2 separate regions of the Homo sapiens genome follow, and region 2 is linked to region 1. Evidence: fine-mapped expression QTL. A gene starts in region 1. The other region holds a variant in brackets. All regions are shown on one strand. Distances are from middle to middle. Region 1 holds the start of TM2D3 (TM2 domain containing 3). Region 2 overlaps TARS3 (threonyl-tRNA synthetase 3).

What was found. PIP is the estimated chance that this variant, and not a neighbour inherited with it, causes the effect.
Region 2: its variant is fine-mapped to the expression of TM2D3 in whole blood (INTERVAL, PIP 0.91).

What each region holds. Positions count from the first base shown.
Region 1 is chr15:101,646,161-101,661,444 of GRCh38, forward strand. TM2D3 (TM2 domain containing 3) reads right to left here and starts at 6,221. Exons shown (of 6, transcript NM_078474.3): 1 at 6,111-6,221; 2 at 5,536-5,613; 3 at 3,844-4,001; 4 at 565-739. The coding sequence starts at 6,201. It overlaps TARS3 (threonyl-tRNA synthetase 3), which reads right to left. Exons shown (of 19, transcript NM_152334.3): 17 at 11,625-11,697; 18 at 10,762-10,876; 19 at 7,436-8,570. The coding sequence ends at 8,422. It also overlaps the pseudogene RNU6-807P. RefSeq lists silencers at 479-645, 5,809-6,368, 6,609-6,798 and enhancers at 6,459-6,518, 6,625-7,515.
Region 2 is chr15:101,686,019-101,701,796 of GRCh38, forward strand. It overlaps TARS3 (threonyl-tRNA synthetase 3), which reads right to left. Exons shown (of 19, transcript NM_152334.3): 10 at 15,068-15,166; 11 at 1-44. Among named protein-coding and RNA genes, the nearest start is that of TARS3, 31 kb to the right of the region's middle. The variant C/T (reference allele first, on the strand shown) is at 8,601.

The sequences.
Region 1 (15,284 bases):
AGTAAAAAAAAGAAGAGAAGTCACGTGGATGAATCCTAGAGCCACAATGTTTAGGAAATAAGCAAGTCCCAGAAGAGCACACAGCCTGAAATCATTTTACACGGTTCTAAAACATGCATTATTGAATATTATTTTATTACATATAGACAATAAAACTACAGAAAAAATTTAAAAGGAAGTGAAATAAAAAATTCAAAAGGGTGGTTACCTTGGAAGAGGAGGAAAGGCAACCAGGTGAAGGCAAGCACTCAGGCACTCAGGCGGCCGCAATGGTATTGGTGCTGCTTTCATTGTTATTTTGGGTAAAGGTCAATTACTGTGTATTATGCTTTATACTTCAAATGTTTTTCTTATTTTATCAAATATTACATTTAAAAAGAACTGCAATTTTCTGGATGCTTTACTTTAGTACGTTGAGTTTATTGATGATGCTTGGCACATCTAAAGAGCTGCTGATAAATGTTTCTAATTAAGTAACTTGACTCGCAAATTTCTGGTTAAAGTCCCTTCAATAAACTTGGAGAAAAACATTTTGTTGACAAATGTCCTTGAACTCTGACCTACCCAAGCAGTGGACGTGGTCCCGCACCGTGCAGTTGGCAGGGTAGCGCTGCCGAGGACAGGACACCGTCATGCAGCTGGTGGAGTTGGTACACTCGTAATCTGTTTCAGGAAGCTGCCAGCAAAATCTGCAAGTCATGTTAATGATGAAGTTCTTTTGGGATTTGAAGTCTTGATCCTATGTAGCAAATGACACAAAACTCATCAATCACAATGGTGTAGTCTGTTAAGATGTCAGTAAGACTACACAGTCACATGGCACAAAATTCCGTAAATGCTTGTATTTAGGACCTAGGAGTAAGTGCCAGAAAAACAGTTACCAAAACAATATGTATGTAAAACAAATGCCTATGATGTGACCTCATAATCATAAAACTACACACCCAAACATATGTACTTAAGGGAAAAAACTAGATAAATTCACATCAAAATAGCAAAGGTTATTTCAGGGTGATATAATTATTTCATAACTTTTGCTTAGCTAAATTTTTCATAGTAAACGTATACTTTTATAATGCAGAAAAGAGGAAAATTTATTTTAGAAAGTCACAATCACGGATGGCTGGAAGGAACTGATGAATGCATTTGTTGAAGGTCACTGAGCTTCAAGTGAGGAGTGGAATCCAGGTCCCTGAACTCCAGCCTGATGCTTCTGTAATGGTTAACACACCGCCTTGCTTCCGAGTTGCCAACCTTCCCTAACATCCCCTACCTTGCACAGCCTGGCAACTCAGGGTTGTTACAGCTGCTCCTACCACCAGGGCATGTGGCATGTTTAATCCAGAGGCAGCCCAACTCAGAAGCACCACATGGTGTGTGGAGGCTCAGTGAGTGTTCACTGGTGGCCAGAGAATTTTTCATTTCAATTTTAAAAGCCATTATTTTGTATTCTGCTTACAAAAGTAGAATGTTCTTTGTATGTTACATATTTGAAGATTATAGACAAAAACCTATAGGTGTTCAGAGCTAACCACTTTTAATCTTCTTTCCGTTTCTTCTACATGTATATTTATAAATTTACTAAAATGGAATTATACTGAAAGCACTTTGTAGTCTTTTTACTCTACCTGACATTACATTGCAGTGCATATTTTTCAAAATCATTTTTATGTGGTCACACATCTCTGGAAGCATCATGTATATATATGTATACATATATATACACATACACACATTATTTTTTTTTCTTTTTTTGAGATGGAGTCTCGCTCTGTCGCCCAGGCTGGAATGCGGTGGTGCAATCTCGGCTCACTTCAACCTCCGCCTCCCAGGTTCAAGCGATTCTCCTGCCTCAGCCTCCTGAGTAGCTGGGATTAGAGACGCACCCCACCACGCCCAGCTAATTTTTGTATTTTTAGTACAGATGGGGTTTCACCATGTTGGCCAGGCTGGTCTCAACCTCTGACCTCAGGTGATTCACCTGCCTCGGCCTGCCAAAGTGCTGGGATTACAGGTGTAGGCCACCACGCCCGGCCCATGTTTGTTATTTTTTTTAACATTTCACAAATTTGCATGTCATTTTTGCAGAAGAGCCATCCTAATTCTCTCTGTATGGTTCCAACTTTGGCATATGCGCTGATGAAGCAAGTACTATTCATTTTCTTATCAATGCAAAAACCACTTTTTATGGAAAACATTCAAATATGGGTAAGGCATCACTTGATTTAGGCAAACAGTTGGATCTGCAAAATAATACGTTTACATCTGCCTATTTTCAGTGATGTGCTTAAAACACACTTTTTTTAATGGTTTTTTAAAAAGTAGGTGACACATGTACATGGAACACATGTCAAGACACAACAGGAGAGTGAGAAGTGAGCCGGCCTCGTCTGGCCCAGCCGCCGGGAGCCCCTGCCCTCCCCAGGCCAAGTACGCTCTGTGCTTCCAGAGAGAGCTGATTCTACACATAGGCACATTTATGTCACCTACATTTAATGTTCCCCAATACTTTCACTTAATTTTGGACATCTATCAGTACATTACCTCTAGAGCTGCCTAGTTCTTTTTAATGGCTACAAGGTGTTTATTCTATTACACGTGTACCATAAATTAAGCAGTTCTTAGACATTTCACTTCTTTTGAATCTTTTGCTTTAATGAGCAATGCAGCTAAAAAATAAGCACACTTATCTGCATCCATGTATAATGATATCTATAACATAAATTCCTACATGTACAACTACGAGCTCAACGATTGTGTGCATGTGTAAGTTTAACAGATATGGCAAATCGCCTACAAGAGGTTGATCAATTTGATTACCTATTAATAAGATATGAGCATCTGACCCTTATACTCTCACAAACTCAGAGTTAATCAAATTAAAAAAAAATTGCCAATCTAAGGGTTAAAAATGTATTAATTAAATACTATGAGAAAACTTATATGTTTTTCATGTTATATATCTATTTGTATTTCCTTTCCTATGAACCATCTGCTCATGTCCTAACACTGTTTTTCTACAAGACTGTCATCTTTTCCGTGTGGGTTTTAGGAAGTGTTTATATATTACTGATATTACTGTATTATTTGTCACATATTCTAGAAACGCTTTTTCCTAGTTTGCCATGTCTTTTGCCTTTATGCTTTTTTTTTTAGGTCATGCAGAAATCTCCAATTTTTAGGAGTCAAATGTATCAATTCTTTATTTTATGGCTTCTAAACTTTATTTCATACTTAGAAAAATATTCTCCATTTTGGGATTATAACAGCAACTATCTGGTGTTTTCTGTGGTACTTCAGGGTTTCATTTTTCACATTACATCTTTGGACTATCTGGAATTTATTCTGGATAAGACAGGCGTTCCACTTAATTTTGTTCTAGAGAGCTACCAGGCATTCCGGCATTTACTGAATCCATCTTCTCACCACAGATAAGCACTGGCCCTTCAAAAGCTCATCTATGGCAGAAAGACACTGCCACCCCCTCTGTACACTAGCTGTCACTATTGAGAACACAGAATCCATCTGAACGAATTAGACTTGCTTCAGATATGCTAGTAGACTGAGATCTTCTCCAGTCCTACAAAGCAACATTTCTGTCAAGTGCATTTCCAGCAGACATCAACTGGCTTGACAGTTATCATTATAACTAAAACAGTAGTGAGCTGATATGGAAAGGTCTATTGGGTTTTTTAATTTATTTCTGCTTACATACTCAAAAGGGAAATCATAAAAGAATATAAAAATTCTTCAGAATTTCTTCCCAATAATCAAGTCTGAATTGTTCTTCTAACTTAAAGTTTACAATGAATTTATTTAGAATAAGTAAGCTGCAGTACTTACAACACAGGTAACAGATGGTTTCACTGCACAGTCAAAAGTGACAGGCTTCCCATAGGTACAGGAGAAATTTGTTGTGCAGTCTATACAGTCTGCAGGAAGCCTGCTACACAAACCATTGCTCGGACACTTCATCACATAAGGTGGGATTTCAGTACTTTCTGTGAGAGGCAAGAGAGAAGCTTATTCTCCTATAATACTGATTCGAATAACAGAGAACAATCTTCTAAGGTTAAGAGACGTGATCATTAGCAAGTAGACACTGCACTGGAAGGGAAGAAGCATGGGACTGGAGTCAGAGACACCTGCAATTAAAGCAGAATTCTGCCCACGGCCAGCTGTGGGACCTGGTGAGCACCACACTTGTAAAACATTACTTCATTCCTGCCTCCCACGTGGCCGTGAAAACTAAAGGTGCTCATATACAAATAATGTATAGAAAATTCTGGGTATACATTAAGGGCTTAAAAAAAAGACTATCATTTTGTAAGTTGAAAAAAAACTTACAGTAGGGTTTTGCAAAATCACAGAGGAAGTCTGTGGCAAAACTGGAACTAGAACCCAAATCTCTCCATTTCCAATCCCGTGTTCTTTTCATCTGAATTCACTAATTCAGAAATGAAGCCACTGACATCCTCAGGGCATCAACTTTAAAATGTCATTATTTCACACTGGTACTTCGATAAGCCACATTTGCTAATATAATATTTACAGTTTTACGCTACCAAAGTTCAAAACAGTTCTCTACTTTAATAACATCTTCAGTAAGCTGCAACTTATTTCCAACCAACCTAATGAGTGTGCAATGTATTTTTACCAACTGAAAGGATCAAAATTGCAAGTATTCCTGAAAAGAAGGGCTTTCAAAAGCCTGCAAGAGTTAAGAACTCTTGTGCTTTCTCTAAAAAGTAATCTGAGTTTAAAATTCAAGTGCACTGCTGTTTTTTACATCCAAATAAGAATCAGTAAAATATCTCTGCCAGTTTCAATTCACTGAAGTAATGTCACTTTAAAGTGATGAAATTATAGTCAGAGCCTCCACCTAGCAAAACACACTAATGCTTGTTTAAAACTGGTCCTACTTTACTCACTGTATTAAGGAACAATTCTACAAAATACTCTTTTTGATCCCGTGACTATGTGGCTGGAAGGTGGACACTTAGAATCACAAAGCAGAAATGACTTTAGGTCGTCAGACCAACCCCACCGCTTTAAAGATGAGGACCAAGGTCCAAAGAGGATAAATAATTTGTTCAAGATCCCAGTAGCAAAACCAGATCTAGATTTCAAGTCTCCATCAGTCCCGCTGTAATCCTTCCATTTCCACAGTCCTGAGGGAGCCTTTAATATTCCAACATCAGGAACAGGGTTTTAGCAGTAGAGGAAATTTGCTGAAGGGAAAGAAGCACGGACTGAAGGTTATTTTGATGGATGAAGTGGAAAAATAATAGAAATAAGGTGACAAATGAGCGTGGGATTGGAAAAAGAGAGGAGGCAGAAACGTCAAAAGGTATAAATACGAAGACTATCTACTGAAAATGGCTGTGTATCTACCCTTAATTCACATAATCTAAAATACAATAAATATTCAAAAATGGAAAGTGACTTCGTATACTAAAGGGAATTTTTATAAAAACAAAGAGAAACTACTAGAGATAACTACATGTATTTACTAGAATAGAAAACGTCTAGTACCTGCTGCCCTGGGAACTACTGTGAATGTGCGTGTTGGGCCCGGATCCTTTATTGACTGAGCCAGCGCCTGCGATTGCTCTAAATTTAAGGATCGTACAATTAGAGAAACACGTTATCCCGGGACAAGAAAACCTTATTTTGTGTGGTTAACACGGCGGGTCTACACCAGGCCAATAAGCTGCTCATGAAAACCTCACGGCTGGTCAGCCAGAAAACACAAAGCTTAGGGACGAAACGTCAACAGAGTAGACATCAGTTCAGGTCAGCCGGCAACGAGGGACCGAAGGATGACATCGCGCTCCAGTTCCGCCTCCCCGGCCCAGCCCCCAAGCGCTCCATCTCCGTGCCAGGGCTCCGCAGCCGCGATGGCGGGCTCGGTGTCGCCGGAGCGGAGGGGCGGCCTCGGGCCGGGCGGCCAGGGCGCCAGACTCCAGATGCAGCGACAAGCGGCCCGGAGCCCGGCACTCGGCCTCCTCCCCGCGTCAGCGTCCGCCCGTGGGCCCGGCCTCCTCGCAGCTCCCGGGGCCCTGCTGCCACTCAGCCCCACCCGGCGCTGAACCCAGCCTTTGACTCACCACCGCCCGACAGAATGCAGAACTGCGAGAGGAAGAGCAGCACGCGACACAAGGCGCGGAGGCCCCTCAGCGGGAGCACCCCTCCCGCCATCTTGCCAGCGCCTGCGCACTTCCGGGCCGGGGGGCGGGGCGCGCCTGGGAGCCGGAGCGTGAACTGGACGCAGGCGCGCTGCGACTCCTGGCGGCCGGCGTTTGCGCTTTCGCTGTCCTCGCGCGGGTCGCGGGTTTTCTTCCGGTTGAGCCTTCTGGGAGGTCCCCGAGGAGGATGCGAGCCTGGGAGGTTGTTCCATTTCCACGCGCCCCTCACGCCCTTGGACGAGGCCCTCACCCCTGGTTCCACTGCAGGAGACCTGTTAAAGGTCATCCGTGGACCGAAATGCGCGCCCGAAGCAACCAAGAGCAGAGGCGGGCGAACGCGGGAGGCTGGCCGCCCCAGTGTGTGGTCGGATGTTGTGTGCTGGATCTCGTGCGAAGGTTCCGAGGACACTATCGCGTGGCGTTTCATCCTAAAGACACTTATTTACAGTCGGGGAAGCGGCCCCGGGACGACGAGGGCCCGAGGGACCCCTCCCCTGGGGCCGGCGCTCAGGCCTGCCGCGGCTTTCACTTCTGGCCGGCCTCTTGAAGATACGCAGCACTTCCAGAAAGTTCCTCTCAGGCCTGGAGAAGCAGGATGGCCCGAGGCGCTGGGAAGTGAGGGGAGGGTCCAGAGCCCAGCCCTGCCTGGGGAAGGTCGCGGCCGTCTGGGGAGCCGCGCTCAGGCCCCAGCTTGCGGAGACCCTTGCCGGTTTCTGTCACAGCACACCTGGGAGAAAGCGCTGGTGACAGGTGCTCTCCTCCCACCCACGTGCTTCGGGATCGTTCATTCCGCGGTCTTCTGACTACCACCCCCTCACGTGCATGTTTGCTGAATGACTTTTTAAAAAATACATGGAAAAGTGCCGGCACATAAGCCCTGAATGTTAGCTTTAAAAATCGTATCACGGCCGGGGGCGGTGAATCACGTCTGTAATCCCAGCACTTTGGGAGGCCCAGGCGGGCGGATCACGAGGTTAGGAAATCGAAACCATCCTGGCTAACAACACGGTGAAACCCTGTCTCTACTAAAAATACAAAAAAATTAGCCAGGCGTGGAGGCACGCGCCTGTGGTCCCAGCTACTGGGGAAGCTGAGGCAGGAGAATCGCCTAAACCCGGGAAGCGGAGGTTGTAGTGAGCCGAGATCGCGCCACTGCACTCCAGCCTGGGTGACAGAGCGAGACTCCGTCTCAAAAAATAAATAATAAAAATCATATCACACAATCTGCACCTTATACTACTACACAAGCCTGATATATATTGTTTTGTTTGCCAACTGTTTCACTGTTCACATCCCTCAGGAAGTTAACTAAATGATCAGTATATTGAAAAGAGATTATTTCTTACATTTCTTTTGAATTTCACAGCATATCGCAAAATAAACAATACTTCTTGTTTGGTAGCTGAATTCTCTATTGACATAATGCCATTTTAATTCAGTTCTGAGCACGTAGAGCATTCCTCTCTTTAAAATCTGAAATCCATTTCAGTACATAAATCCATGGAATGTCATCCCATCAAAAAAGTAACAACTCTAGGTGAGCGGCTTAGTGGTGGTAGAAGCCCACAGCTGAAACGCTGGAAACACTGATGCAATTCATTTGGGAATTTATTTTTTTCTAAAGCGGAACAAAACCTAATTATGAATAAGAAACATTTAAATGGCAACTCTTAACCTATAGTGCAAACACCAGATTCCACAAAACTGAATTCCTTTGTCAGTAATCCAATATTTAGCAGTAGCTGCTGCTTTTGTGGTTGTTGGTTAGTTAAAATTAAGTAATGATTCCAGTTTAGAAGATAAAGTTTCAGTGTGAATTTTAGTAGAAGTCATAAAAATACCTGAGACATATTAGAAAATAAGATTTTCCCTCCTATTTAAAAAAAACTCTGCAGACTTTTATTTGAAGCCCATCTTTTGAAAATCACTAACATTTCATAATCATTTCCTAGTGTTTTGTTTCACTTTCTCGATGAATAATATTTCCCCATTTAAGTTTCTCAAGGCATTGATTGCTGGAAAATTTCCCACGTGCCCTCTAAACGTCCCCCGTGGACATGAGTAAATTAAACTTCGTGCATGTCAGCTACACGTTCATCGTCTCCTTTCTCAGCTGAGGCCATGAGTGGACCCATCAGTGGCTCCAAAGTCGTAGAAGTACTAACATGTTAAGAAAAATACATTTTTAAGGGTCAAAACAAAGTTACACAGAAGCAAATATCAGGGAAGGACTTCAAAAGGCCTCCTCAGCATTGAGTGTCCGTGTCTTCCTGAGATTCTTCAGTTTATCAATGGCAGAAGTTACTAAAATCTCTCCATGAATTTTGTTGTCTCTTGTTCGCACGTTTACAGCATTATCTATCTTTTCCTTTTCTCCAACCACTGCAGAAAAGAAAGGTAAAGAAATGTATTTTAAATCAGCAATTTACCAAACATTAAGTCAGCAGTCCCATGACATGTTTTTATCAAGTTTTTCTTCACTAATATTAAATATCATCTAATGAGCATTTGGTTCATCCTCTGATAGTTAAGTTTCTTGAGGGAAGCAATGACTTCTGATCCCATCTCTCTATTGTCCACCTGAGAGAACAGCTCTTGTGGTCCTGGGGTGCAGATGAGAGGGGGGAGCTCTTACAGACTCACACTGACTGCACCTGGCACTAGGGCGCAAATGAGAGCGGGGAGCTCTTACAGGCTCACAGTGACCCCACCTGGCACTAGGGCGCAAATGAGAGCGGGGAGCTCTTACAGGCTCACACTGACCCCACCTGGCACTAGGGTGCAAATGAGAGCGGGGAGCTCTTACAGGCTCACACTGACTCCACCTGGCACTAGGGCGCAAATGAGAGCGGGGAGCTCTTACAGGCTCACACTGACCCCACCTGGCACTAGGGTGCAAATGAGAGGGGGGAGCTCTTACAGGCTCACAGTGACTCCACCTGGCACTAGGGCGCAGATGAGAGGGGGGAGCTCTTACAGGCTCACACTGACCCCACCTGGCACTAGGGTGCAAATGAGAGGGGGGAGCTCTTACAGGCTCACAGTGACTCCACCTGGCACTAGGGCGCAAATGAGAGCGGGGAGCTCTTACAGGCTCACAGTGACTCCACCTGGCACTAGGGCGCAAATGAGAGCGGGGAGCTCTTACAGGCTCACACTGACCCCACCTGGCACTAGGGCGCAAATGAGAGCGGGGAGCTCTTACAGACTCACAGTGACTCCACCTGGCACTAGGGCGCAAATGAGAGCGGGGAGCTCTTACAGGCTCACAGTGACTCCACCTGGCACTAGGGCGCAAATGAGAGCGGGGAGCTCTTACAGACTCACAGTGACTCCACCTGGCACTAGGGTGCAAATGAGAGCGGGGAGCTCTTACAGGCTCACACTGACCCCACCTGGCACTAGGGTGCAGATGAGAGTGGGGAGCTCTTACAGGCTCACACTGACCCCACCTGGCACTAGGGTGCAGATGAGAGCGGGGAGCTCTTACAGGCTCACGCTGACTCCACCTGGCATACCTGATGAGCCAAGGAGTGGACACCAGACCCATGCGAGCCAGCCAGAACTTTCTGGAATGTGGGTAAAAAGTTTGTTCTCTCTAGTGACCCATATTGTGAGATGATGCAGGAATCTACAGCCATGCTTCTTGCCACACAGAAGGAAGAAACCGGTCTGCAGATAAGTGGAATAAGGTAGATATTCAAGAGAAGCATAAAGAACCAGAGCAAGACAGGAACGAGAAATGGGGAGAAATACTCCTGGTGAGGGTTGAGCTCCTGATTGCTCTTCTAGTGGTTTGGCTATTTAATTCTACCTTTCATGTCATGGGATACTCCAAGACCCTTCCAACAAATGCTGTCTTTGTCTAAACCAAGTTGAGATTTCTGCCACCATAAGAAGCCTGACTGAAACAGCACAATACCTACTCTGGTGTCAAACATTATCATTGAAACACTGTCAATAGAACAATGCTATGCATATTTATTTCGCCTTCTACAGACTCTCAACTTACAAGAAATAGCAATACTGTGCCTGCAGTTATATCAGTGTTAGTTTCTCTTAATTTTGGAATCATTTTTAAAGCCTAAATTTTAGATTCTGCATCTAATTAGTCATATGCTAAAAGGACATTTTACTTTTCATCTAAATCTTTTCCTTTAGATCATTTTAAATTTGGGATCTTTTCTTTCTGTTAGTTTAATCCCAAAGTTTCCTAATAAGCCAGAAAAGTGAGGGAAAATATTACAGGCCTGTGAGGCTGAAATATAAAGTATATAATTCTACTGATGGGATCATTTTCAGAGTTGTTTTCGTTGTTTGCTTGCAATATGAACTATTGCTAGTAAAACTATCCCAGGGGATTCAGGTGAAACTTTACAACTCTTCTTCCAGCAAACAACAAAGAGTACCTAGGAACAGCTAAGCTAGGAATGCTATGGACTCTTCCTTTTGTGTAAGTATTAAATAGACAAATCATGATAATCAAGTAGTTGAACCATATTTCTTATTTGGTCTTTTGGAATTGAAGTGGGAAAAAAAAGCATTTGGAAAAATATATACAAACTTAAATTACCCAAAATAAAATTATACTGAGCCAGCTGTGCATTTCGTATTTTCTTATTTAGTGTACAACTGTGATCCAAGTCAACGTCAGCCATAAATCCTTCTTCAAAAAATTCACTGGATACCTAGAAGAAAATGAAACACCTTTACTGTTACATTATGGTACCTAGCCTCCAAGAAGACCCCGTTGTTCCCCACTCTTGGTATTCACACCTTTGTATAGTTCCCTGCTCACTATACCAGAGCGGGTCTGCGTGACCATAAAGAAGTGCGGAAGTGTCGGCGCATCGTTTCTGAGACTAGTTTATAAAAGGCTGCAGCTCCCATCTCTCTCAGATCACTTGCTCTGGGGGAAACCAGCCACCATGCAGTGAGGACATTCAGGCAAGCAAGCACCCAGGTGATGAGGAGCTGCATCCACCAACTGTGAGCGAGCCCCGAGCTCCGCAGCCCTGGCTGACAGCCTGACTGCAGCCCCAGGAGACGCTCTGCGCCAGAATCCACCAGCTGAGCTGCTCCCAGACCCTGACTCGTAGGAACTGTGAGATCATCAATGTTTGTTGTTTAAAGCTGCTAAGTTTTGGGGTCACTTGTGACACAGCAACAGATAATATTCTTCCCTAATAGAGCTGTGTAGAAATGAATAATTATGATATGTTTTAAAATACTAATTTCTCAAAAAACATTAAGAATGAAATAGTTCTGAGACAGCTGCAGAGACATGATTCGTGTGTTACTCCCACCTGCTGAAAACACGGTTTAAGCTAATGTGTCAGTTCTGCAATATTTTAAAGCATGAAGGACACTCCAAATCGATGACCTACACAGAATACATGCAAGATTATTATGTACTTTAAACACCTCTGATTTTACCTGAAGTGCATATTTTTCACAAGTTGGCCCCACAGGGATGACCATCACCTGACGAGGAGATAGCCAGAAAGGCCTGAAAAATATATATAAAATATGTATTTTCAAAGTGTAATAATGGCTACTTATTACATGATTTTCAAATAACCAAAGATTCTTTTAAAGACTTCACAAGAGGGCAGTTTCAGTAGCGCAGCATGGAAGAAAACTAAATTATATTAAAGTTTGAAGGCAGCAAAGTAAATGAAAGGAGAATTTTGGAATTTTGATAGCACAAGTGCAGGTAGAATGAGCTGGCAGACAGCCCAAAGGGCTGAGCATGCACTTACTGTCTGCCCCAGCAATTGCACTCCTGGCATTTGTCCCAGAGAAATGAAAGCGCAGGTTCACACACAATACTGCTCACTAACGTCCATAGCAGCTTTATTTATAATAGCCCCAAACAGGAAACACACACCCCAAATGTCCTTTAGCGGGTGAATGGCCAAACTGTGGTGCATCCACACTGTGGAACGTGGAACACCATCAGCAAAAAAAAAAAAAAAAAAAAGGAACCAACTAATTTATCTCGAAACAAAACAACATGGATGGCTCTTAAGGGAATTCCACTGAGTGAAAAAAAAAAAGCCTACTTCAAAAGTTTGTGTACTCTGTAAATCCATTTATGTAATATTCTTTATATGACAAAATGATGGAGCTAGAGAACAAGTTCATGGCTGTCAGATAGGAGGACAGGGTGGGATGGTTTGAGTGTGGGGAAAAAAGGGCAGCAGGAGGGAGCCTTACAAGTGATGGACTGTCCTGTGCCTTGACTGGTGGCCTTACACCATCTGTCCGTGTGACACAGCTAAATACACGTTCACACAAATGAGTGCATGTGAGGCTGGTGAAATCGGAACAAGGTTGGTGGACAGTCTCAATGTCTAGTTCTTGGCTGTGATATTGTATCTAGTTTTGCAAGATGTTACCATTGAGGAAAACTGGGTAAAGAGTGTGCTGGACTTCTCTGTATAACTTCTTTTTTATTTTTTTTGAGATGGAATCTTGCTCACCCAGGCTAGAGTGCAGTGGCGTGATCTCGGCTCACTGCAACCTCTGCCTCCCGAGTTCAAGTGATTCTCCTAGCTCAGCCTCCTGAGTAGCTGGGATTACAGCCATTGCCACCACACCCAGCTAATTTTTGTATTTTCAGTAGAGACGGGGTTTCACCATGTTGGCCAGACTGGTCTTGAACTCCTGACCTCAGGTGATCCACCCACCTCGGCCTCCCAAAGGTTGGGATTACAGGCGTGAGCCACCACATCCGGCCTCTATATAACTTCTTAGAACAACATGCGAACCTACAATTATTTCAAAATATAATTTTTCTAGAATAAAAAAGATGGCAGGGTAGGTATAAACAGTGTCCGCTGTGGGACATGTTTGCCCTTTCCCTGTCATAGTGAGTATTTAGTCTGAAGGTGAAAGGACATGCAAGGAGGACTATTTCAGATAGCATTTTATAAATGTGCATATTTATATATTTATTCTCAAATTACAAACACAAAACAATACATGATAAATGGTAGAACACAGAAATACAGGGTATATAATGGCAACTACATATTTCCTTTTGAGCTCTGTCCTTATCCCATCCCCAGCCCTACTCCTCTCAAGGACCCACACTTTAGCCATCTTTACTTTTGGCTCCTGGGGAGATTTCCCCACAAGGCTGACTGCTGTCTGAAGTCTGGATGTATGAAGTGCAGGGAGTATACTTCCGTCTCTGCGACAAAGGAAGGCATGCTCAGTGCACTGGCCCCAACCACCTCCTGTCTCCCTCTCCATCTCCTATTTCACTAGTTCTCTCTCTTTTCTTTAAACCACTTTCACTGCAACCATTCTAATGCAAAACACCATCATCTCTTACCTATGGTAAACTATTTAAAACCAACTGGAAAGAAATATAAACATGTTAACTCATACTCAGGCGGCATACATATTCATACCCATACTTTTGGCTTAACTGTAACTTCAACAGCTTAGAAACTCCATGATACCTAAGTATATTTCTCTATGATCACAAAATATCAGGAATATACACAGACTCTCTAGCTACCCAGGTCTTTTGGAAGACACTTTGTTTGGGAAACTTTCCACCTTATGTTTCCTGCTCAAAAATTTGCTTCCCCAGTCTCGCTGGACATGAATGGTAGTATGCATGGGTGTGATCTAGGTTCTGCTAATGTATAAACATGGCACTCTGACTTAAGACAGAGTGGAGAAGGAGGCACCACATGGAATCCATTATGGCAAGGAAAGGTGATGCAGAGACATGGAGCTTTTGGAGGAACTGGTTGCAGTGACCCTAGCAGTATCATCCGGTGCCCAGTGTCCACAGTGGGAGCTGCAGGGACTGTGCCCGGCAATAGTAGCAGTGGGGGCAGTAGTTTCTGAAGAGAGAGCTAAACTGCATGAGCAGATGCTTAGCCAATTTCTAAAAATGGAATGGGAGGTAGAAATTTCACAGGTGGTTGCTGGTTTGCAGCATTTCCACATACTAGGATACATCATCACAAGATGTTGTCTGCCAGCTGGTGCTATAACTGCTAGTAAAGCCACTTGCTTCTGAATGCATGGTGATAGTAGTGAATCCCTTAATGTCAGTGCAATGCTTTACTTATTTGCTATAAAATCTCTTTCATAGTCAGAAGCACTGTTGTGTTCCTGGCAGCACCTAAGTACATATTTGGTGCCACTGGCAGAAGCATGGCAGCAAAGAAGAGCAAAGCAAAATCCACAGTGAGTCTCTCTTCAGTGAGAATGAGGCATTGCTCCTTACATGATGAAAGGGATCCAACGTAATCAACCTGCTACAAGACCACTGGCTATTACCCCAGGTTATGGTACCATCCCGGGGGATCACAATTAATCACTGACTGATGGCAACCTGAATTCTCAGAAGAGATGTAGCCAGATGGAACTTAGTGAGGCAAAGTCCATGTCTTTGAGCCCATGCCTATCCACCAGTGGCCACTTTGCCCATGAGCCATTGAGCAACAACTAGGGGAAAAAGCAGCTGATTTTAACAGAATGGGTCCTCTTGTATTGGAATACTGAAAAATTCCTCAACAGCGGGGGCCTTTTGGTGGCAATACCACCTCTGTTGGCCCATTCTGAGTGATCATCCACATTTCTGCTTCCCAAATCTATGTAATTTGTTTTTCAATCTAATTAGTTCTAAATCTTTGACTCTGTGGCCAAAGCAGTAACTAGAGCCTGTGCATCCATGTAACTCCTTATCTCCGGCCATTCTTCCTTCCGGGCAAAAAGGACCACAGGATGCACCACTCAAAAAGGACCACAAGATGCACCACTCAAAAAAGACCACAAGATGCACCACTCAAAATTCTGCACTTTAGGACACTTCCCTTCCCCACTGTCATCCTAAATGGGCTGTGCTGCTGAGCCATCCTCTTTGAGTTTGTGCCATTTATGAATCAGGTTTACATGTTTTCCTCCTCAGTGGCTGTAGGGAACCCCAAAGGCAAACAATATGGGTTGAAGGAAGGATGGCTGGAGGGCAAGAGGTGGTACCTAGGAGTGTGGGTCACATGTTTTCAGGACAGCAACTAGATCTCTGAAGGGCTTGAAACAGGTAAAAAGATAACTTTAATTCTACCG
Region 2 (15,778 bases), 40 kb after region 1:
TTGGGAGAGAGCACCTCCGTGAAGTCCCGTTTGTGATATTCCTCCTTCAAGATACATGCATTCAACATTAAAATCTGCTAGGGCAGATCACAATTCCATGCAAAGTAACACTATGAGCAAATATTTTCAAATTGGGCTCATGTCCTATATTAATTCATGATTAATGTACCCTCAGTTTTAGGTGTGGTGGTTTCTGGATCTTGGAAGAAAGATTTACATATGCTTAGTATAATTTCTATTGAGTATATTTATTTTATAGCATATAACAGTATATAGTATATAATGTTTTAGTTCTTTGAAAAGTAGTAATTGAAATACAATATATATAGAAACTCACTGTAACTACTCCAAAGTCCTTCTAAACAGGTTTTTTCCTATTAAGAGGCAGAAAAAATTTATAATTTAATAAGCCTGAATGCCATGTTGCATGTTATAATTTTGATTTATTTAGTTTTAAACAGAAATAAGAATTTTAGTGTATAACGATTTAAGTAGTTGAAATTATTAAGTCATGAGCTGGCCTCTCTCCCTCCCTACCTATTAACAGCTTCCCTAATTGAATTACTGGAGACAGGAGAAGAGAGTTTTTTTCCAAGCAAAGTTTTAACTTTATTTAAACTTTCTTTAAAAACAAAACAATTAGGTGATCTTTGTTGGGTAAATATTTTATGTGCACTTTCCAAAAATGCATATTCTGCTGTTGTTTTACAAATGTCAATTAGGTCAAATTGTTTTGACAGTAATTTGATAGGGACCCTTTGCATGACAGTTTTAATTTGGATGAACACAAAAAGCTGAATAAGTAAGAATTCTGAGAATCCTTAGATTCTCAACATTTGTAAACCACTTAATGGACATCTGGCCCAAATCTAGAATGCCATGTATACTTTGAGCACATTTGAAAAACTGTTTTCACAGCTAAAAAAACATAAAACATAACATTTTAAGATTACTAACAATGGTTTTATACAACTGAAAGGAATGTTGTCTGTTATTCTTCAGCAGGGCATCCTGGCAGTCCACGGTAGACAGCTTAGGTCTCGGCCATTCAGTGAGCTGCTTTACCTATCCTTTGTTTTTACTAAATTAGAAAACCTTAACAGGTAGGGTGTGGTGGCTCACGCCTGTAATCCCAGCACTTTGGGAGGCCAAGGTAAGTGCATCACCTGAGGTCAGGAGTTTGAGACCAGCCTGGCTAACATGATGAAACCCCATCTCCACTAAAAATACAAAAATTAGCCAGGCGTGGTGGCACACACCTGTAATCCCAGCTACTCAGGAGGCTGAAGCAGGAGAATCGCTTGAACCCAGGAGGCAGAGGTTGCAGTGAGCCAAGGTCACGCCATTGCACTCCAGCCTGGGCAACAAAGCTAGACTCCATCTCAAAAAAAGAAAGAAAATGTTTAACAAAATGATGTCATTAAGAATGGCAGTGATTATTGGCTATTTCAGATGGTTCCATATATTCAGATTAAACAAGGTCCCAGAAATTAAGGGTGAGTGTGTGGGTGTGTGTGTGGCAGGGTGTGCGTGTTCGCTTTTACTAAAAACTACTTTTAAAGTCTAGCTCAGGAGATACTGCTCAATGCATTTTTAATTCACTCTGAATGCAACCATGTTAGGAATGTATGTCTTCTTGAGATGTTTAGAAATGATTTTAAACTATCCCTGCAATGGACTGAATGTGTCTCCCCCAAAATTGTGATATTGATACCTTAACCCCAAGGTGATGGTATTAGGAAGTAGGGCCTCTGACAAGTGATTAGGTCATAAGGGTAGAGCCCTCATGAATGAGATTAGTGTCCTTATAAAAGGATTCGCAGAGAGCTCTCTGGTCCTCTTTCTGCCATCTGAGGTTACAAGAAGTCAGCAGTCTGCAACCTGGAAGAGGGCCCTCACCAGAACCCAACCATGCTGGGACCCTAATCTTAGACTTACTGCCTCTAGAACTGTGAGAAATACCCTTATGTTGTTTATAAGCTACCCAGTCTAGGGTACTTTGTTATAGCAGCACAAACTAATGAATATAATCCCTATGAGATGAAGTGTCAGCAACTATTATATTTTTACATAAATATATAGGAGATATCTATATATATTATGCTGCTGTATCTCTCCATATTGTAATATACATATTGTTTTGTCTCTCACACACACATATAAATAACAGAGAGATAAAGCAAACTGGCAAAATATTACCAACTAATGAATCCAAATGAAGGAAATATGGATGTTCATTGCATTGCATTTTAGTTTTTCTCTAGATTTGAACTTTTCAAGAGAAAAAGTTGGGGAGTAAAATATGTCTCATGCCATGCCATTAATTTCTTTCTCTAATGCTGGGAAAGAGTAAACTCTCAGTGACTGAGCAGTTCACAGCTCAGTCCAGTCTCCTGAAGAAATCCAGATAACTTATCTGGAACATTAAAAATCATATTTCATCCTGGAAATACCAGTTTAGGTTATTGAAGGAGCTGAGTCTCTACCCATACCTAGTGATCTGGCCACTTAAAAACATCTAAATAGCTTCTAAGAATCAGTGTCATAAATTTGTTTTCAAGTAATTTCTCATTGTAAAAAATAAGGCAATTCCACATAAACAGCTCCTTTCCAAAACCCCATTAAAATAAGAGTAAAGAAAGTTTTTATAAGAGCATAAATCTACCAGGACAAAGAAAATAGGAGAGAAGATGAATGCTATAATAAGTTAGAATCTGCAAAGTAGGTGATCAAGTGTTAATTGCCTCAGAAGACCTAGGAAAGCCAAAACTAAATTGGCAGTGGGAGAAACCCAGAAGCAAGCTACTTTAACTGGGTATAGATTTCTAGGCTTCGCATTACTAAGGCATTGTTCCTGTCTTCTGTTTTTCAGTGTTTCCACTGAAAATTTCAATGCCATTCAGATACCCAGTCCTATGTCTGTGGCTTTTTTCTCTCTGGAAACATTCAGGATATTTTCTTTATCCTTGGAGCTTTGGAATCTTTCGATAACATGTTTTGGTGCCCAAAGTATGTTTTCACCAAAAACTGAGACATGCTTGGGAGTTGAGATTGTCCATTGCCCATTATGGGCTCCCTTTACTATAGAACTGATAGACAGAAAAGGACTTACTACCCTTGATCCCAATTACTTGGGGAAAGACTTACTACCCTTGATCGCAATTACTGGGAGAAGTCGTATTGCTTACAATGGAGTAAGGAGGACTGTGTCTGGAATTCAGTGGGGAGCCTTTGATATCAACACATCTAGCAACAACCATCAGTGGGAGCCCTGAAACCCCACAAAGAGCATTACTAAAACCTTGGATCCTAAGGACAGACTGAGGCCATCCACTATTATTGGTTTAACTGTATTCTCCAAATAAGATATTTTGAAGTCCTAACTCCTAGTACTTCAGAATGTGTCCTTATTTGGAAGTAGGGTCTTTATAGAGGTAATCAAATTAAAATGAGATCATTAGGGTAGATCCTAATACTATATGGCTGGTCTCTTTATAAAAAGGAGAAATCTGGACACAGAGACAGATGCACACAAGGGGAAGACAATGTGAAGACACGCAGGGAGAACATCACGTGAAGACAGAGGATGGGAATGACGCTTCAACAAGCCAAGGAACACTAAAGATGACTGGCAACCAACAGTAGCTAGGAGAAGGCAAGGAAGGATTCCCCCATGGGTTTTAGAGGGAACACAGCCTCGTCAACACCTTGATTTCACACTTCTGGCCTCCAAAACTGGGAGATAATAAATTTCTGTTGTTTTAAGTCACCTAGTTTATGGTATTTTGTTATAATACCCTAGGAAACTAATGCACCCACCAAATAAAACAATGCCCATCTGGGGTGCCACCAGGATAAGGCGAATGTGGAATGAGTGATGGGAAAAGAAGGCTCTGATGTATCAGCTTGGCCCTAGCGTCCATCTACAGAGGCTGAAACAGTTACATTTAGTTATGACTTTTCCTTGCATTCTTACATGAAGGGCACTCATGGTGGCCAATGGCACGATTCAGATTTAGGTGAAACTGAAATGACATCACCACATGATGACACATCGGCTGATCGGAGTTTGTGGGAGGAAACCAATGTCCTCAGTGTCCTCCAAGCAAAAGGCAAGAATGTGCTGAGAGGCACAGGGGGTGAGCCAGGCTGGTTATTTTCCATTTGCCACTGCCTGTCTCGCCTCATCTTGGCCCATTTTCCTTCCTTCTCTGCCCTGCACTGTGTTCCCCAAAGCTGACTTCTGTGGGCTCCGCACAAGGCTTACTTGCTGTGATTATTATTTTTTTATTTTATAAAATATATACTTTTAAACACAATAGTATAATACAACATGCTTAAATTATGTTTCATGTGGAAAAAAATAAGGTGTATAAAGAAAACCTGAACATTTTCTCTCATTCCACCCTTTACTGCCCTGAGATAATGCTAATGGCCTGCTGTTCCTGTATTTCAACCCTCTCCTCCATGACTGTGCAAACACAAAACACACATACAGGATTTTGTTGTTTTTTGCTTTTACCTATAAAAAGAAAGGATACACTATACATTTACTCTGTCACTTCCAGTTTTCAATGGTGAGGTATACTGAACCCCCTTCAAGTTAGTATGCATAGATGTATTTTTGTACTAACTGCATAGTGCTTTATTGTGTGGACATGTCACAAAGTATTTAATCCTTCTACTATTGAGAAACATTAGACTTTTCATTTTTGAATACTACAAACTATTCTGCAGTAAAGTTTTTTTCTATGTGATTTTAATTGTATATTTTAGATTCCTTTCTAAGAATATTGCTAGGAGTGTGCATTTTTTTCACATTAATATTTGTTACCAGATTAGTAGCAATTTAAACTTTCTCTCTAAGTATATGATAACTGTTTCCTCACATTTCCTTCAGCAATGAAAATTATTTAATGGGTATCAATCTTTTTTTTTGAAATGGAGTCTCGCTCTGTCACACAGGCTGGAGTGAAGTGGCGTGATCTCAGCTCACTGCAAGCTTCGTCTCCTGGGTTCACACCATTCTCCTGCCTCAGCCTCCCGAGTAGCTGGGACTACAGGCGCCCACCACCACGCCTGGCTAATTTTTTTGCATTTTTAGTAGAGATGGGGTTTCACCGTATTAGCCAGGATGGTCTTGATCTCCTGACCTCATGATCCACCCGCCTCAGCCTCCCAAAGTGCTGGGATTACAGGCATGAGCCACTGCGCCCGGCCAATGGGTATCAGTCTTAGAACTATTACCTCAGTATTTATATATATATATATATATTTTTGAAACAGAGTGTTGCTCTCTTGCCCAGGCTGGAGTGCAGTGGCACAATCTTGGCTCACTGCAGCCTCTACCTCCTGGGTTCAAGCAATTCTCCTGCCTCAGCCTCCCAAGTAGCTGAGATCACAAATGTGCACCACTACGCCTGGCTAATTTTTGTATTTTTAGTAGACACAGGGTTTCACCATGTTGGCCAGGCTGGTCTCGAACTCCTGGCTTCAAGCGATCCACCCCTCTCAGCCTCCCAAAGTGCTGGGATTACAAGAGTGAGTCACTATGCCCAGCCTTTTAAATTTTCTTCAATAAATTTTATTTCACATATTTGAGATTCACAACATGATGTTATAGGACACAAATAGTAAAAGAGTTACCTTTTTTGTGTGTGTGACAAGAGCAGTTAAAATCTAATTACTTAACAAAACTCCCTGATAAATATAATTTTGTTAACTTTAGTCCTCATGTTCTGTATTAGATCTCTGGCCTTGTTGATCCTAGATATCTATTTTGTATCCTTTGATCTATATCCCCCCATTTCTTCCCCCCAACCCCTGACCATGGTAAGCACTGTTTAATTCTCTGTGTATGTACCTGAGCTCTCTCCTTTTTTTAGATTCATCAGCTCCCCTGGTTCTCAGGCCTCTGCACTCAGGCGAGAATTACATCTCCAACTTTCTTGGACCCTCAGATCATGGGATTTCTTGGCCTCCATAATCACACAAGCCAATTCCTCATAATAAATCTCTTCTTTTCTATGTATCTTGTTGGTTCTGTTTCTGTGGAGAATCCTGACATGCCAATATACTTTCCATATGGTTTCTGATTGGGTCTGACCAATGGGAAGTTCCAAAGGATTCACAGGGTAGTGGAAGAGAGAGGTCTGGATATTTCTTTCCCTGGTTCTCCCTGCTGTGGGTTTACTCAGGTTCTGGCTGTGTTCCACAGTTACAGCTTCTGTTGTGTGGCCTCTCCTCCACGGCTCCAAGCTCTCTGTGGGTTCTGGTATTACTACTCCATCTCCTCACTTCTCTCCTCCACGGCTCCAAGCTCTCTGTGGGTTCTGGTATTACTACTCCATCTCCTCACTTCTCTCCTCCACGGCTCCAAGCTCTCTGTGGGTTCTGGTATTACTACTCCATCTCCTCACTTCTCTCCTCCACGGCTCCAAGCTCTCTGTGGGTTCTGGTATTACTACTCCATCTCCTCACTTCTCTCCTCCACGGCTCCAAGCTCTCTGTGGGTTCTGGTATTACTACTCCATCTCCTCACTTCTCTCCTCCATGGCTCCAAGCTCTCTGTGGGTTCTGGTATTACTACTCCATCTCCTCACTTCTCTCCTCCATGGCTCCAAGCTCTCTGTGGGTTCTAGTATTACTACTCCATCTCCTCACTTCTGCAGGCCTAGTGATGGAGGGGAAGGGATTCTTGCTATTGGTAATCCCTGGGCGCTCTATCATCCCTTGTTAGTTACCTTAGCCAGGCCCATATCTCCATAAATACTTCCTTCACTAGACTCTCTTCAGTTAAACCCTTGGAGTGCATCTTTCAGGACTCTCCCTGCAGAAGAGCTGAATGTTTTGAGGCCTGCCATGTTCACAAAGACAAGCTTGGTCTAGAAATTCACTCCATCTAAGGTTGTGTGAAGAGGAAGCAAAAATTCCCCAAGTGGGTTATTAATATAACAACAAGAGAAGCCACTCCCCTCCCCACTCCAGGGTTTCAAGACATGCATCAACAAGTCAGGCAGATTCCAGGAAATGCAAAAGGTGTGACTGAGATGAGCTTTACAAAAGCAACCCTCATGCACAGCTGGTGGGAATGCAAAACAGTAGTCATTTTGGAAAATAGTTTGGCATTTTCTTATAAACTTAAATTTACCATATCTATTCTCACACTGCTAATAAAGACAAACCCAAGACTGGGTAATTTATGAAGGAAAGAGGTTTAATGGACTCACAGTTCAGCATGGCTGGTGGGGGGGCCTCACAATCACGGTGGAAGGCAAAGGAGAAGCAAAGGCACATCTTAAATGGCAGCAGGCAAGGGACTTTGTGCGGGGGAACTCCCTTTTATAAAATCATCAGATCTCAAGAGACTTATTCACCACCACAAGAACAGTATGGGGGAAACCACCCCCACGATTCAATTATCTCCGCCTGGCCCCACCCCTGACCCTTGGGGATTACTACAATTCAAGGTGAGATTTGGGTGTGGACACAGCCAAACCATATCACCATATGACCCTGAAATCACACTCCTAGGTATTTACTCTAGTAAAATGAAAACCTATGTTCATACAAAAAACTGTACATGAATGACAATAGCAGTTTTCATAACTGCCAAAAGCTGAAAACAACCCAAATGCCCCTCAACTGCAGGATGGATCTGAAGCAGTGGTATGTTCATATGATGGAATACTGCCCAGGGACAAAAGCAGAGGCCCGCTGGGGACACTCAACTCGGATGCATCTCCAGGGTGTTATGCTGGGTGAAAGCGGTCAGTCTCTAAAGGTTTTATAAAAGTATGATTCCATTTATATGCCAATATTTTAGGGGTAGAGAAAAAATCAGCCGTTCCCTGAGGTCAGGGCTGGGGAGGATTTGATTTTAAAAGGGTAGCATGAGGGAGTTTTGAGGGGTGACGGAACTGTTCTGTATCTTGATTGCTGAGGTGATAACACAGTTCTGCATGTTATCAAAAAGGCGTACATTTTACTGCATGACAATTAAAAAAGTTAATTTAAAAAAAGGTAAGAAAAGTACAGAATCAGCTGACAGATATTTTCCAGAATGCAGGGAAAAAAAAATTCAAGGAGACTAACAAAAAGATCTATTTATTCACTATCAGTTGTCCACACAGTCAGTAACTAATATACAAACAAAAGTTCACTTGCCTTTACTTAAACCTAAGTGGAAGTCATTTTACCTGAGTCAAAAACTCAGAAATCCTGAAATTTCCCTCAGTGGGAGCAGTGTGCACACCCAGCCCATCCTGGCCTCCTACATCCCTTCCACAGAAATGCAGCAGTTCCAGTTCTGAGGAAAAGGATGCTTCCTGGTAGAATGCGGCCATATATTCCATCGTGCTCAGCACCATGTATCCCCAGCACTCTGGCTACTACTGACTGGTCTAGGACTCAGCACCAAGGCAAAGGCTACTGATATTGGACCAGACCATGGCCCCTGAGGCAGCCCAGCTGTGACTGAGAGTCTGTCCCACAAGCACACCCTCTACTGGCTGGTGACTAACAGAACCAACTGGAACCTCAGGGAGGACCTTGAGGCACATGGAAGAGGGCAGAGAGGAAAAAAGACACAGGCAGATAGA[C/T]TGAAAAATATCAAGACCCAACAGTATTCTTTTCTCCAGCAACGTACTTTAAATATAGAAACAGAGGCAGAAAATAAAAGGATAGGAAAAGATATATCATGCAAACACTAATGTAAGAAAGCTAGCTTGCCTATGTCAACACCAAAGGAGACTTTTAAAAAGATAGTTTTATTACAAAAGGTCAAATAGCCTATGAACCCATTTATATGTGACACCTAGAAATAGTCAATTTCATAGCGACAGAAACTAGAGTGGTGGTTACCAGAGGCTGGGGGAGGCAGGCATGGAAATTAGTGTTTAGTGGGTACAGAGATTAAGTGTAGGATGATGACAAAGTCCTGGCGAGTTTCGGATTTGCAACGTGGAAAGAGTTCTGGAGATGGACCATGACAGTTGCATAATAACATGAATGTACTTAGTGAGAATGAATTGCATACTTAAAAATAGTTAAAATGGTAAATTTTTATATTATGTGTATTTTACCACAAAATGGCTTGAGGTAAAATTTACACGCCATAAAATTCACCAATTTTAAGTGTACAATTCAGTGACTGTTGACAAATGTATACAGTCATGCGACTTCTGCCACAGTCAAGATATAGAACATTTCCACCCTCCAGGAAGTTCCCTCCTGACCCCCTGGAGTCAATCCCCTCTCCCCACCCACTGGACTCCTGATCATCTTTCTGTCACTATAGTTTTGGCATTTCTGAAATGTCATATAATGGAATGGTGCCTTATGCATTCTCTGACTTATCTGGCTTAGTACGATGCTTTCGAGGTTCCTCCTTCATGTGTATATCAGTATCTCACTGCTTGTAAATGCTGAGTTGTATTCCACAGCATGGACTTTCCACATTATGTTTATCTTTTCACAAGCTGAATCTGGGGTTGTTTCTGGTTCTGTGCTATTATAAGTAACGCTTCTATGAACATCCAAATACAAGTCTCAGTGTAGATGCGGGCATATGTTTTTATTTATCTTGGGATAATTAGAAGTGGGGGCTGGCGTGGTGGCTCACGTCTGTAATTCCAACACTTTGGGAGGCTGAGGCGGGCAAATCACCTGAGGTTGGGAGTTTGAGACCAGCCTGACCAACATGGAGAAACCCCATCTGTACTAAAAATACAAAAATATTAGCTGGGTGTGGTGGTGCATGCCTATAATCCCAGCTACTTGGGAGGCTGAGGCAGGAGAATCACTTGAACCTGGGAGGCAGAGGTTGTGGTGAGCTGAGATCATGCCATTGCACTCCAGCCTGGGCGACAAGGGCAAAACTCCATCTTAGGAAAAAAATAAAATAAAAAAATAAAAGGCCGGGCGCGGTGGTGGCTCATGCCTATAATCCCAGCACTTTGGGAGGCCGAGGTGGGTGGATCACGAGGTCAGGAGATTGAGACCATCCTGGCTAACACGGTCTCTGCTAAAAATACAAAAAAATTAGCCAGGCATGGTGGTGGCAGGCGCCTGTAGTCCCAGCTACTTGGGAGGCTGAGGCAGGAGAATGCATGAGTCCAGGAGGCGGAGCTTGCAGTGAGCTGAGATCGCGTCACGGCACTCCAGCCTGGGCAACAGAGCGAGACTTTGTCTCAAAAAAAAAAAAAAAAAAAAAAAAAAAAAAGAAGTGGGGCACGTTTATCTTTACAGGAAATGCCAAACTGCTACAAAGTAGTTCTACCATTTTACGTTCCTACCAGCAGTAAGTGTTATACTTGCTTCATATTCTTGCCAATGCCTGATGTTTTTAGTCTTTCTATGATGGGAAGGGGACATTCTTCAATCAATAACCCTGGCATGAGACTCTACCTGAATACAGTCATGTAAGGGACCCAATGCGAGAACCACCCACAGGAGCCTAAAATTTGGAACTATGAAAGACAGTAATGATGAAATGGCAGTTTTAAACTATTAAGTTCTGGGATACTTTGCTATGTTGCAATAGCCATCCAGAACAGAATTTTGCACTGGATGTAGGTACTGCTATAACTGAGAAATAAAAATAAAATCCTAAGCTCCCCAACTGACTGAACAGACACCCTCTTGGCCAAAGGACCCCAGAGAAACCTTAAAAACTGAGTTACTGGCAGTGACAAGAGGTTGGACATGCCTAATTATACCCACTCTGTCACTAACAACCATTAGGCTTTCTTTCCTAAGAGTTAATCAGAAACAAGCCCTTTTGAAAGACTTGTTCCACCACTGATTTACACAACTGAGCAGCATTTCTTCCTGTTAAAAGACCACTCACCATGCACTGGTTCTGGTTGGTTTATAAAGGCTGCACATGGGATGCCTCCGTGTCCTCCATTTGACCTTTTGGTTATACAGCCTAATTTAAATGCATTGTCTCCACCCCAAAGTGAACAAGGGATGCATGTAACATGCATGTTTGCTTACTATGTATATAAATGTCCCCCCTTTGTGAATATTCATAGCTCTTCTTATAACCTGTTAAATATTTATACTTGGCCAATCTCATCAGCATAAATTCCTGTCTTACTTTTCCCTCCCTTGAAATGCCTGCTTCTGGTTTCTGCCAGAAGCTATGAAGCTTCCTAGCCTGCAAGATTTCAGGCTGCAACCCCTCAGAAGAAATGAAGCTCTCCTTTACAATTTTATGAACCTCATGATTCTTCAGTTGACATAACAATAACCTAAAACATGTAGCTTTGGGGCCAGGTGGTGGGCAGAAGCTAGAAGGGATTCTTATTACGAGGTGCCAGAAACAGATGGTGGGTAACACTGTCACCAGAAGTAACATGGAAAACAGAAAGGGTACCCAAAGAACTCATGGACTTAGCTGGGGAGACGTCCAGGCAGAATGTAGAAAATGACAGCCGATTTTTGGCTCCCTATGGTAAAATACAAGAAAAGAGGTATAAACCAAACGTGAAACTAATTAACTTTTTGAGCCAAGTTTAGAGGAAATATAAAGCCACCAGGACCTGCTGGGTTCAAAAATGAAACCTTCTTATCCTTAGACTGTACCAAAAAAGACTCACGAGGCTTCAGGACACGGATCAAATTCAGATTATAATCATCAAAGCACAGCCTTACGGTAAAGATCTTAAGGGCGGGGCTGTAAGACACTGTGAAAACCTCAGAATGATCTACTGTAAGTGCACCTAGTAAGGCTTCTGAAAGTCTTAGGAGTGTGCTTTGTAGACCCTTTCCATTAAACACGAAGGCTCTGAAGACTCTGCAGTGTACTATTGTCTCACAGTAGCCTCCCAGGCAAAGAAGGATCGGTGTCAGAAAGATGTGGATGTGGCTTTTATCTAACCGTGTTGATGATAAATTTATAGAAAAGGACTCGCAAAGTTTTTAAAGGAATTGTACTAGCTTAGATTGAAAGGCAGCACAAAATGAAATAAGGGCTTTGGATTCCCCCAGCCTTCTACAGGAAGGAATCAGGTTGAGAACAAAGCTACCCCAGGCCGGGCGCGGTGACTCACGCCTGTAATCCCAGCACTTTGGGAGGCTGAGGCAGGCGGATCACGAAGTCAGGAGATCTAGACCATCCTGGCTAACACAGGGAGACCCTGTCTCTACTAAAAATACAAAAAGCCTGGCATGGTGGCAGGCGCCTGTGGTCCCAGCTGCTCGGGAGGCTGAGGCAGGAGAATGGCGTGAGCCTGGGAGGCAGGAGGTTGCAGTGAGCTGAGATCACGCCACTGCACTCCAACCTGGGCGACACAGCGAGACTCTGTCTCAAAGAAAAATAAAAAATAAAAAAATACATAAATAATTTTTTTTTTTTTAAAAAAGAAAGCTACCCTAAGGCACATATGGGCCATTTCTTATGGAAGAGAAAGGATGACTCAGAGGGCAGAATCACAGCCAGGCAGAGCAAAACTGGATCTTAATCAAAGTGTATCTTTTGACCCTGGGGCAGTGATGACCGGTAGATACCAGAATTTCTACAGATGGTGACTACCATGTGCCTCCTACTCTACCCCACTCCTTTTTGAGTAAGACTATCTATTGCATTATTCCTCAAGCACCATTTTACAATGTGAGGGAGATGAGAGGATGAGGTGGCTGATAGATAACTTGAGTTTTTAGTTCACAGGTCTTAAACTGTAGAGGAAATGTACTTGATAATCTGTTCCCAACAAACTGCACCCGAGGAGCCTCATCTGCAGCTAGGCCTGATTCAGAAGATGTCCTGGATTTTTGAGCCAATGTAGTAATTAGATGAGCCTTGGAATTATTTGTTAAGAATAGAACACTTTGGAAGAGTAGAATGGACTTCCCTACAGTCCTTTGGGGCTGAAAAGACATAAACCCACCAGCCTGTCAAGTGGAAACCCAAGGGGGTCATGACCTAGAAACAGGAATCAAAAGTTGAATCTTATTAAAGTGGAAGCCGGCCCTAACCCAGTGCAATCTCTGATCGAATTCAATGATCAGTCCTTAATAGTGGCAGAGGGTGAATGCTCCAGTGGGAGATATCATCTAGAGCCTCTACACCTAAATTACATGTAATACTTGGCATCTAACAAAATATTACTTGATATGGGAAGTGACACAACCATAATAACAAAAAACCAACAGAAAAAACAGCTGAGTTCTCCAAAAGGTTTTTTTCATGGTAAGGCCAATTCCTTCAGACAAAGGTATCCAGAAATGCAAAGTTCTCAGTGTCGCCTGTGTCTGTCAAATATTCCCATTCCAAGCCTCAGGGACCCTTCCCAACCAGTGCCCTTACCTTAGAATAAGAGATCACTGGGTTTGTGCATTTAAGTGCCTTTACAGTTTGGTGACCCTCACAATCAGGCCCTGCTCCTGTTCATCAGCCACATCTGTCTTGCATCTATAAAAAATAAGAGATCCCCTTAATGCCACTGTAAAGGCTTTCTGTTCATTCTCCATCTATTGTACTCCCAACTTGAGAGTACAAGGTGCCAGGGGCCATGCTGATTTTCCAGAGAAGACAGCACATCCAAATCAGCAGCTGTGATGGTCATCACCACCTGCCTAAATGTAAATCTCTGATAATCTTCAGTGATTCTTCAAGTCTCTTCCACTGCCCTCTGATCTCCTACCATTGCCTCGCATTGGCCAGTCCCTACTGGAAGATGTGTACCCCAGGTGATAGAATACAGACATGTCAGCCTCCAGGGGCACAGCACAAGAAGAAAAAGACGGAGAACAAGACTGGAGAAGCAAACAGAGAATAACCAGTGCAGGCCACATGCCATGGATTGTCTTCTCAGAAAGTTACTGAAGAAAGTGATCCCCAAATGAGAATTAAAGATAAGCAACGAAGAGATATACAGGGACCAGGAAAAGAGACTCAGCATAGGAAGAGACATGAGGGGAGTGGCCAAGATGATGATGAAAAGAAGTCCTAAGCCATCAGTTTGCAAGAATCTTAGTAGCAAGTTAATTCTGGAGTAGGACCAAATTTGAAAAAAAAAATTACTGAGCAATTACCTGAATCATTGCAGAATATGTTGCAAGGAGATTTGTAGTTTTTGAGAGAAATTGGAGCATGAATTAGTGGTAGGCACATAAAAAAACTAAGTAAATGAAAAATTTAGGTAATGATTATAGGAAAGACAAAACAGTGCAAGCATGGAAATGTAATCCCAGTAGTCCACCCGGATCACCTGTGAACACTATCTACACAGTCCTTATCATGTAAATACTAAAGACTTTCCCACCTATGAACTTGTAATACAAGTAGGTATTTTGCACTGTTGGTTTTTTCCTCTTTCCTCTGGAACTGCCAAATCACCTGGGAGTCATGCTATAGGCAAAGGGAAGCATCAGTGGCCCATGGAGCACATTTGGAGAAGCAATGCTTCATGGCTTAACACTCTGTACCAGAGACGACACTTTCTCCTTTCTTCTTTTTCACAGGGAGTGCCACACTTAGTCTAATGCTTACCTTTATATTCTACATGGTTTAGAAACTTATATGGACAAAAAGTGAATTTTATGAAATCCAGGAATGTATTCAGGGGAAACAGAAATTATCTCCATGTTATTATTAGAAGGTACAATCTAGTACCTCACTTTTTTTTTTTTTTTCTTTGAGATGGAGTCTTGCTCTGTCACCAGGCTGGAGCGCAGTGGCACAATCCTGGCTCACTGCAAACTCTGCCTCCCGGGTTCAAGCAATTCTCCTGCCAGCCTCCCAAGTAGCTGGGATTACAGGTGTGCACCACCACACTCGGCTAATTTTTGTATTTTTAGTAGAGACAGGGTTTCACCATGTTGGCCAGGCTGGTCTCGAACTCCTGACCTCAGGTGATCTGCCCACCTTGGCCTCCCAAAGTGCTGGGATTATAGGTGTGAGCCACCGTGTCTGGCCAGTATCTCACTTTTAACCTCAAAATTCTTATTAATGTTACCAAAGTAAAGTTAATGGAAACGCTTGACCACTTTATTATGAGAGAAAATAGTAAAAATGTAAACTGGAATTGAATAAGAATAAAACATTTTAAAGTTAACTTACTCGTATGAAATCTGTAAGCGTATTATAAATGAAGGCTCCTCTGGGAAGGAAAAAACAGCTTCCAGGACTCAAATCGTGGAAAAAGAAAAGTTCTTGTTCCTAGATTGAAACAAAAATTGCATTTCAAATGTCATCTGCTATTGCTTAATATTTACTGCACACACATATAATACTCAGTTATTTCCATCTTCTCTAGTAATAGACATTCCAAGGCCATTCAACACTTATACCTAAATGCATGCAACAGCATATGTAAAATTTCCAATCATATTTATGCCTAATTAGCTTTGAACTTAGCTTTTACTTCACCTTCTGCTATTCTCTGCGAATTTTCTTACTTGGCACACTTGGAGTACGGCACTCATGGGGAGACAACACGGTAGAAAGACCAAAAAAGTTCATTGCAGGAGGTGGGCTTTAGGTGATGATGATCATCATGGCTGCTGCCTACTGAGAGCCTATCCTGTACCAGGCACCGTCACCCAGTTTCTGTCTTCACAGCCACCCTGCAAGGCTACCCAGCAAGGAAGACAAGGACACGGAGCTTGCCCATCATCTAACACAACTAGTGAGTACAAGGACTGGGCATAAAGCTCAGGCCGAGCTGCTTTCCAGTCTGAGCTTTTCCTTCTACACGCTGCTCTGTCTCCCAGATACAAAGGATGCTATAAAGTGCACAGAATGTAAAAAACAACTCTTTTTTTTTTTGAG